Linked DNA regions of Homo sapiens: all the other regions are reported to be linked to region 1. The links are microRNA targets in miRTarBase. Many come from high-throughput screens and were not tested one by one. Region 1 holds a microRNA gene; each other region holds the end of a gene's coding sequence.
Evidence for each region. Region 1 holds the annotated microRNA hsa-miR-5195-3p (AUCCAGUUCUCUGAGGGGGCU, at 1,142-1,162, shown strand). A microRNA usually pairs through its seed, bases 2 to 8, with sites in the 3' UTR of a target mRNA and lowers its output. Matches are read on the target gene's strand: a 7mer-m8 pairs with bases 2 to 8, a 7mer-A1 pairs with bases 2 to 7 and ends in A, and an 8mer does both.

Region 2: the mRNA of ZNF445 is a reported target of hsa-miR-5195-3p. The part of its 3' UTR that is shown has no 7-base or 8-base seed match.
Region 3: miRTarBase lists SLC16A5 as a target of hsa-miR-5195-3p. The part of its 3' UTR that is shown has no 7-base or 8-base seed match.

What each region holds. Positions count from the first base shown.
Region 1 is chr14:106,848,724-106,852,071 of GRCh38, reverse strand. It overlaps MIR5195 (microRNA 5195), which reads left to right and starts at 1,073; the gene lies at 1,073-1,187. All of the region lies in intron 1 of LOC124903399 (a long non-coding RNA gene), which reads right to left. It also overlaps IGH and the pseudogene IGHV5-78.
Region 2 is chr3:44,443,621-44,446,968 of GRCh38, forward strand. ZNF445 (zinc finger protein 445) reads right to left here. Exons shown (of 8, transcript NM_181489.6): 8 at 1-3,348. The coding sequence ends at 2,955. Among named protein-coding and RNA genes, the nearest start is that of LINC01988, 17 kb to the left of the region's middle.
Region 3 is chr17:75,105,668-75,108,667 of GRCh38, reverse strand. SLC16A5 (solute carrier family 16 member 5) reads right to left here. Exons shown (of 7, transcript NM_004695.4): 7 at 2,506-2,788. The coding sequence ends at 2,635. Among named protein-coding and RNA genes, the nearest start is that of ARMC7, 2.8 kb to the left of the region's middle. RefSeq lists an enhancer at 2,978-3,000.

The DNA of each region.
Region 1 (3,348 bases):
GTGGTCCTGCCTTTGCTGGGTGCCCAGACCATAATGGCACTCATGGGAAATTGCCAGCAAGTAGAAACTAGGTGTTTTTTTTTTTTTTGTAGTTCTTATTATCAGGCATATGTGCATTTGAATTTTGTCTTCATAGCATTTCCTGGTTCTATTTCTCATTTTTTAAAACACACGTGATTTCATCTAGATTTATCACCTTCACAGGGTCACAGAGAAGGGTAGGAAGAAGGGAGGCCCTGGTTTGGGTCTTGTAGGACCATGGACAAGAGTGCGGAGGGACAACAGGGGGTTGTAAGACATTATTAAGACCTTATTCTGCCTCTCCCAAGAGGCTCAGTTCAGCCGTTTTTCTGCAGTTGCGGTTCTGGGTTATAAACCTTGTAGACTCTTCCCTTCAGGCCAGGGCGGCAACTATGCAAATTCAAGTGGGGGCCTCCCCACTTAAACCCAGGGCTCTCCTCCACAGTGAGTCTCCTTCACCACCCAGCTGGGATCTCAGTGCTTTCTTTTCTGTCCTCCTCCAGGATGGGGTCAACCGTCATCCTTTCCCTCGTCCTGGCTGTTCTCCAAGGTCAGTCCTGCCCAGGGTTTGAGGTCACAGAGAAGAATGGGCAGAAGGGAGCCCCTGATGCAAATTTTGTGTCTCCCACACAGGTGTCTTTGCCGAGGTGCAGCTGTTGCAGTCTGCAGCAGAGGTGAAAAGACCCGGGGAGTCTCTGAGGATCTCCTGTAAGACTTCTGGATACAGCTTTACCAGCTACTGGATCCACTGGGTGCGCCAGATGCCCGGGAAAGAACTGGAGTGGATGGGGAGCATCTATCCTGGGAACTCTGATACCAGATACAGCCCATCCTTCCAAGGCCACGTCACCATCTCAGCCGACAGCTCCAGCAGCACCGCCTACCTGCAGTGGAGCAGCCTGAAGGCCTCGGACGCCGCCATGTATTATTGTGTGAGAGGGACCATCTAAAACCTTCCGCGGTGCAGGTGCAGAGTGAGCTGCCAGACACACCCTCCCCAGGGGCCTCTCTATTCATCCGGGGAGGAAACACTGGCTGTTTGTGTCCTCAGGAGCAAAAACCAGAGAACAACATGGGAGCGTTCCTAACCCCTAAGGCAACTGGATGGGAGACCTGACCCATCCAGTTCTCTGAGGGGGCTCTTGTGTGTTCTACAAGGTTGTTCATGGTGTATATTACATGGTTAACATCAAAAGGCTGCCTAATAGGCACCTCTTCAATATAATAGTCTTTTAATTAGTGAAAATTTTACACAGTTCATCATTGCTTGCTTGCCTTCCTCCCTTCTGTCCGCTCTTACTCCCTCCTTCTTTTATTTTCTACTTACTTTTCCAAAATCATTTAACCCCTTTTTGTACCATTAATAAGTTATCTTGTTTTTGTTGTTGTTTTCCTTTTAACAATATGCACTGAATAATTCATCTTTGTGCCAATTCGTAAATATTTTGATATAACAAAGACTTCTGTCATAAATAGATTTCCTGTGAGTAATCTTGCAAATATTTTAGAACCTGTTTGGTTAAGAATAAATTAAAATAAATAGACAAATTTTTAAAGACATACAACCTATCAAAACTGAACCACCAAGAAATAAAAAATCTGGGCTGGGCGTGGTTGCTCATATGTGTATTCTCAGCACTTTGGGAGACCGATGCGGGTGGATCACCTCAGGTCAGGAGTTCAAGATCAGCCTGGCCAACATGGCAAAACCCCGTCTCTACTAAAAATACACAGATTAGCTGGGTGTGGTGGTGTTCACCCGCAGTCCCATAGTCCCGGCTACTCGGGAGGCTGAGGTAGGAGAATGACTTGAACCTGGGAGGCAGAGGTTGCAGAAAGCCAAAATCGAGCCACTGCACTCCAGACTGAGCAACAGAGTGAGACTCCAATTAAAAAAAATCTGAACAGACCAATGAGTAAAGAGATCGAGTCAGTGATTTTTCCAACATCTCGAATCAAAGTCCAGAACTTCATGGCTTCACTACTGAATTTTATCAAAAATTAAAAAAAACCTAGAATCTCTACTCAAATTTCCAACAAAATAAAGAGAAAGAAATATATCCAAGCTTATTTTGGAAGGCCCTATTTCCAAAGCAAGGAAAAGACACTACAAGTAAATAAAACTACAGGCCAATATCCCTGATTATCATAGTTTCAAAAACTCTCAAGAGTGATGAGATGACAAACAAAATTAAACAGCAGATTAAGAATAGAATTCACCATTATCTGTGTCTCCCATACCCAGAGAGGCTGCTGCTTGCCCTGCACAAGGATACTCTGAGCAGAAACCTACCTGGCCCAGCCCTCACCTTGCTTTATGCAGCCATCTGCCCTGGCAGCTTAACACAAAGGACAGCATCTTTTGGGAGATACATGGCCACACCCACTGCCTGAGAATCCACAGTAGCCCCTATTCCTGGGCAACATAAGCCAAGCAAAAACCCCACTGTTAATACTGTAGCTGGTGCTCTTTGGAAAGCACCATCTCCAAGCAGGAAGCCAATAAACAGTCCATCACAGTATCTCCTGGTAGACTATCACTGCACCCAGAAAGGAGAAAATGACTGTGTGATCTCAGCTATGACCAGTGCCTGCACCACTCTGGATGACCAGGAGGTCCTGAGTCTGTCCATGTGAACAGTTCATTACCGCTATAACCAGCATTCAAGAAAGCCAGTACACAAAGGCTATCAATATCTAAGGAATTTCAGTCTCCATCACTCCCCTGCTGCTTCCATCAGACCTGGTTCACTGCTCACTGCTGAAAAATTGAGGACACATCACACCACCGGATCCCTCACATACATTCCCCAACACCAGCCTGAAGTGTGTCAACTTCACTGGGCGGCTAGACCTAGAGAAGCAACAACACTCACAGTAGTATGGCTCCCAGGTTCTCCTGCTCCTAGGGGAAGGGAGTGCACCACATTGAGGGAACACCCTGTGGGACAGGAGAATCTGGATGGCAGGCCTTGAACATCAATCAGATCCCTCCATTGGTGGGAAACTTCTTTTAGTAGAGGCAGTTACAGTGCTGAGCTCAGCAGAGAAAGTCTTCAGCTCTGTCTCAACAGTCAGATATCCCTGGTGCATGTGAAAAACTTGAAGAAGAGGAAGTCTTTCCCCCTTGTACACCACTGCAGGCACACTTGGGGTCTCTCCCATAAGAGCTCAGTACGGGTGCAACTATAGACAGCATTTCTGGAACACATCATGTTGACTGCATCCCCCAGAAAGAGCACTCTCCAGGTTCAGGTTTTGGCCAGACACAGAGTCACAATTCCTCTGTATTTAACACTTCAACTTTTGTACAGAGGAAAAGACATG
Region 2 (3,348 bases), not on the chromosome of region 1:
TGGCAGGCACTTGTAGTCCCAGCTACTGAGGAGGCTGAGGCAGGAGAATGGTGTGAGCCCAGGAGGCAGAGCTTGCAGTGAGCGGAGATCGCGCCACTGCACTCTAGCCTGGGTAACAGAGTGAGACTCCGTATCAAAAAAAAAAAAAAATTCAGTTTTTCACTTCATTCTTTGCACATTTTAAAATTTGATTAGAATGTTTAGAAATAAGCACATTTCATTCTATAAAAATGACAGGTCAGGCACAGTGGCTCACGCCTGTAATCCCAGCACTTTGGGAGGCAGAGGTGGGTGGATTGCTTGAGCCCAGGAGTTTGAGACCAGCATGAGCAACATGGGAAAAAAAAATAAAAGTTTTGTCTCTACAAAAAAATATAAAAAATTAGCTGGCAGGGTGGCACACACCTGTAGCCCCAGCTACTCGGGAGGCTCAGATGGGACCTGAGCCTGGGAGGTCAAGGCTGCAGTAAGCTGTGATCCTGCCACTGCACTCCACCCTGGGCAACCCTGTCTCAAAAAATAAAAAAGACAGTAAAAATATCCCTATACTGGGGCAGGAACTTTACAAGGTATCCTGTGGCAAAGGGAGCAGAGATGGGGGGAAAGGGGTGCTAAAAGTTTGATTGGAAAGGGACTTTTCCATGGTTACAACACCAACTGACATGGAAGCTGCACCTCTGAGAGGGCCCTGGTCCTAGAGGTCAACCACCTGATGGAGAGCCTTGGTAAACCAAGCCCTCTTTCACCAATCTCAGGAATCAGGTAGCACAGCCAAGCACTCTAACTTCACACATAAGGAAATTGATGCAGAGGTTCATTGACTTGCTCAAGATCAATCCTGCCAAGAAAAGGCACACCATGCCTGGAACCCAGATCTGATGACTCCAAGACCCTTCCTATGACTCTGGCCCCCCTGCCCAGCCACTTCTAGTGCCAGTTTTGGGACAGTGAAGGGACATCTTCAGTGCCATGAACAGCTGCTGCCGTAGGAAGGCAAGAGGATGGCAGAACCAAGATGACCAAACCTTCCTGAGGACAAAGCTGAACAGGCATCAGAACACCAACAGGAGACTTCTGCCCCGCCCCCACCATCCTGTGACACCACCACACAATATCAGAGCCTTCATTTTCACCTGCTCATGGCAATCCAGAGCAGGTAAGATTATTCCATACTCTACTGAAAAAGACATCTTCCAGGTTGGTTTCTTCTCATTTCAAGAAATGACCAGCTCCATGAACGGGCCCCTATAGTCAGGACACTGCTCTACTATTAAAACATTTTATCCTTTCATTCATAATCTGACCTCTTCAATAATCAGAAGCAATGATTACTCACATGCTTTAGCAATATCACTCCTTTGCCTTTAAGTAATTGATTCTTGCTTTTTGCTTCAACACAAGTGGGTGGGCCAGTGAGGGAGCTCCTCCCAGAACAGGCTGCCTTTTCTCCTGAGAGCAGCAGGCACATGCACTTGTTCCTTCGGGTTGAATCTGATTGCTAGCACCAGATCTCATACATGGAGAGGGGTATGTGAAGCTGAGAGGGGCCTGCAGTGTGCAGGGGCTAGAGACATGAACACAACAATGGTAAGCGTTTATATCTGCTGAGGCCGAGGATCCTATAGAAAATTCAGAAACGGAGTGGGGAGGAGTCTGATTTATGGGAACTGGCAGCAAGGCTAACTGCATGAGAAGCCTTTCACCCTTTTACTGAGTCCTTGGATCTGTGGTTAACCCTTATAAAATATAATTCAGATTCAAACCACATCACTCCTCAACTCAAAATTGTCCAAAAGCTCCCTGCCTCCCTCTGAGCCAGCTCAAGCCCCCGTAATGACCCATGATGCTCATATGGCCGGGCCTGTGGCCTCCCTGGCCCCTCTCCTTCCCTTCCAGCTGGCTCCCTGCACTCCATCCCAGGGGCTTCCTTCCTGAGGACACCAGTCAAGACCCAATCTCCTCTGCCTGCAACTCTCCCTAGAGAGCTACCTGCTACCTCCCTGGCTTCCTTCACGTCTTTGCTCACATTTCACCTTCTCAGTTGAGGCCCTCCCTGACCAGACTATCTAAAATCACGACTGATCTCCCAATCCAGCACTCCCTCTGCTCTTCTCTGATTCACTTTGTCCACTACACACATCACCATCCAGAATACTGCGTATCCCATTTGTTTGTCATCTGTAAAGATCCAAGATGGCAGGATTTTCATCTGTTCTGGTCCCTGCTGGGTCTCTGGCAAACACACCAGCGCCTGGTGTATGGGAGTGCTCAGCACATTTCTGTTAAACAGATGGACCGCTGCTGCCTATGCAGGCCTGTGGGATGGGGATGGCAACAGGGTACTGGTAGAGATCCACACGCCAAGCGCTTGAGCCCAGCATCCTGCTCTCCTCCACCTGCCGCTGAGACCACTCTAACCCCCTAGCAGATATCCAAAAGCCAGCCAGGAAGGCTGAAGCCCCAGCCAGAACTCCCCAGGGGGCATTTGGGAAGGCTAGGAGTTCTTGATGCTGCTGCTTTTAAAGTCAACAGAATAGGCATGGCCACAGGCCAAACTTGAAGACAAATCTAGGATCCCACTGGCCCCTTTCCAGCAGCCATAGCCCATGATGCCACAGATATTCTGTCCAACCACAAAGGGCAGTGGTCTCTCTCTTCAGAGTTGTGGAAGGAGACCTGAATAGGGGAGCCGCAGGCTATGGTGCAGAGGCCACTCCTAGGGGCCGGAGTCTCCAGAAGGGCTCCAAAGGACATGGTGCTGCACTTCCCCAGCGTCACATCCTAGCAGGCAGGCTGGGGACTCCCCGAGCTTTCAAATCCTTGGGATTCTGTCACTAGCTTCCAAAACAGAAAGGGCTGGGCCCTTTATCAAAGTTACTCCACAATGCCTATAATTAAGGGTTCTCTAGCAGGGGACTGAGAACCCACCCCCACTGTCACTGTCAGGTCCCAGGCTAATCTCTAATATGGTTTTTCATATGCCGAGCCAGGTTCGAAGACCACCTGAAGGTCTTTCCACACTTGCTGCATTTGAAGGGCCTCTCTCGAGTATGAAATCTCTTGTGGCTAATGAGTTGTGAACTCTTGTTAAAAGTTTTCCCACATATGCTGCATTTGTGGCACTTTTTCCCAATGCTTATGTCCTGGAGTCCAGTGAGCCTGGAGCTCTGGCTGCAAGCTTCTTTGCAGTCTTCGAGGGGCATCTCTTCACTTGGTTTTAGCTTCTGTAATCTCAACTTTGTGTCCTGAGAGGAAGACCGTGCAGGCGGGCTACGTTCAGCCTGTGCTGCTCTGGTGTGTTTCCTCTGGTGACTGGAAAGGGTATGTCTCCCAATGAACTCTTTCCCA
Region 3 (3,000 bases), not on the chromosome of region 1:
CATATAGTTTACTATGGCATGGATACTACCATTGCAATGCCCTATGCCCAAATAGATATCATTTTCTTTGAGAGAGCCTCTCTGTTATTTAGGCTGACAAAGGCAAGGACCATTATCTTAAGCCCTGGGCCCGGATGAAGGCAGAGTGGCCGTCACACTCCAGCCAGCTGCAGCCCCATTGGAAGCAGGCCTCACCTCTGAGGTTTCAGGTCCTTGTGGTCAGCCCCTGCCCTATGTACACCCTCTGAGGCAGGAGTTTCTAACTTAGTCTGGGTACCTAGGCCCCAGGACCCTCACCAAAGCCCTTTGGCTTCTCTTGGGAGCCTCTGCAGCCTGGGAAGTGCATCTTACCCCTAGGTGCCCAAGGGGTTTCTCTGCCTCTTGCTGGACAGAGCAGCAAATAGGAGCCCAGAAACAGGGAGGATGGAAGTAAGCTCCATCCCTCCCTGCCCAGGAACTGCCCCAGACCTTCTCTAGAGGTTCGCAGGCAATCAGCTAGATGGGGATTGCTGAATCAGATGGGCCACCCCATCTTCCCTCATTGGTCTTCTCCCTTTTTTTCTTTTTGAGATGGAGTCTCGCTCTGTCGCCAGGCTGGAGTACAGTGGTGCGATCTCGGCTCACTACAACCTCCGCCTCAGATTCAAGTGATTCTCCTGCCTCAGCCTCCCGAGTAGCTGGGATTACAGGCACGCACCACTGCACCCAGCTAATTTTTGTATTTTTTTTCTGAGACAGTGTCTCGCTCTGTCACCCGGGTTGGAGTGCAGTGGTGCGATCTCAGCTCACTGGAAGCTCCGCCTCCCAGGTTCACGCCATTCTCCTGCCTCAGCCTCCTGAATAGCTGGGACTACAGGCACCCGCCACGACGCCCGGCTAATGTTTGTATTTTTAATAGAGACGAGGTTTCACCGTGTTAGCCAGGATGGTCTCGATCTCCTGACCTCGTGATCCACCCGCCTTGGCCTCCCAAAGTGCTGGGATTACAGGCGTGAGCCACTGCGCCCGGCCTAATTTTTGTATTTTTAGCAGAGATGGGGTTTCACCTTGTTGGCCAGGATGGTCTCGATATCTTGACCTCGTGATCCACCTGTCTCAGCCTCCCAAAGTGCTGGGATTACAGGCATGAGCCACCGCACCCAGCCAGTCTTCTCCCTTCTTAAGGCCTCAGGGAGGGGCCCTCCTTGGGGTGGAATTCTCAGCCCTTGGTAGGTCTTACCTCTGCCCAGTCTCTGGCACACAGTAGATACTCAGTAAATATTTATTGAAGGAATTCTGCCCAGAGATGATTGCTATTCTTGCCTAGGAGCAGGTGAGATGAAAGTTTCCTATGCAGAACATTCATTGATACCTTTTTTTTTTTTGGGAAGGGGGGACAAGGTCTCTGTCACCCAGGCTGGAGTGCAGTGGTGTGATCACAGCTTACTGCAACCTTGAGCTTCTTGGCTCAAGGGATCCTCCCACCTCTGCCTCCTGAGTGGCTTGGACTACAGGCCTGTGCCACCATGTCCAGCTAAGTTTTAAATTTTTTGTAGAGATGGAGGTCTCCTTATGTGGCCCAGGGTGGCCTCTCAAGTGATTCTCCCATCTTGGCCTTCCAAAGTGTTGGGATTACAGGCATGATCCACCACACTTGGCTTTTTTTTTTTCCCTTTCCTTAATTTTTCTGTAGAGACAGGGTCTCTATGTTGCCCAGGCTGGTCTTGAAGTCCTGGTCTCAAGCGATCCTCCTGCTCTGACCTCCCAAAGTGTTTTTTTTGTTTGTTTGTTTTTTGAGACGAGTCTCATTCCATCACCCAGGCTGTAGTGCAGTGGCGTGATCCCAGCTCACCACAACCTCTTCCTCTCCAGTTCAAGCAAATTTCCTGCCTCAGCCTCCCAAGTAGCTGGGATTACAGGCGACTGCTACCACGCCTGGCTAATTTTTGTATTTTTAGTAGAGCTGGGGTTTTGCCATGTTGGCCAGGCTGGTCTTGAACTCCTGACCTCTAGTGACCCACCCATCTTGGCCTCTCAAAGTGCTGGGATTACAGGCGTGAGCCACCACACCCAGCCTTTTTTTTTTTTTTTTTTTTAAAAAAAAGACAGGGTCTTGCTGTGTTGCCCAGGCTGGCCTCAAACTCCCAGGTTTGAGTGATCCTCCCACCTCAACCTCCCGAGTAGCTGGGATTACATGTGCGCACTGCCATCTCCAGCTGATATCTTTTTTCTTTAAATGTTTTCAGGAAGTGGGCTCATTACGGGATGCACACAAAACCTGGTGGATACTAGCACCAAAAGCACCTATCTACCAGCCCCACCTCCCTCCTTTTCCATTCAACTGAGATGGAGCAGACAGGATTTGGCAAAGTCCATGCAAGCACTCTCCCTTCAGAGCATGTGGTATTGATGGCAGCCAAGTGTAAGACTGGGTGGGGAGCCAGAAGGAAATGGAGTCGTCAGGATGCTCACCGAGTCAGACTTTTCAACCGGAAGAGACTAGCTCATCCAAACCAACCTCCTACGTTTTCTTTTTTAAAATTAAATTTTATTATTTTGCTCTAACAAAGTAACCTCCTACTTTTTCAAGGCTCAGAGGTGGTCAACAATTTGCCCAACTCACATGGCAGATAGTGGCGGAGTCAAACAGGGCACTCAGGTAGGGCTATTCCAGCCCAGAGCCGTTTGCTTGGCCTGCAGTACCGCCTTTGGCCATAAGAGCCACTCATGGCTGGTCCTGGAGGAGGCAGGACATCCCCAAAGATGCTTATTGACGCCAGCTGGACGTGGCTGGCGGGAAGACTGGCACCTGTTCATGAAAATAAAATCTCCTGATAAGGTTTTCTTGCGGAGCCTGGTTGAGCCTGAATCAACAAACAACATCCTGAACCTGAGCACCCCTTGCTGAGCTAGGAGGAAAGGAAGGGTGAGGGGAAACGTACTCCAGCTCTGTTTGTCAGCTTCATTAGTTCACAGAGTTTATGACCTGCTGCAGGGAACATTTTTGTGTGTAATTCAAAC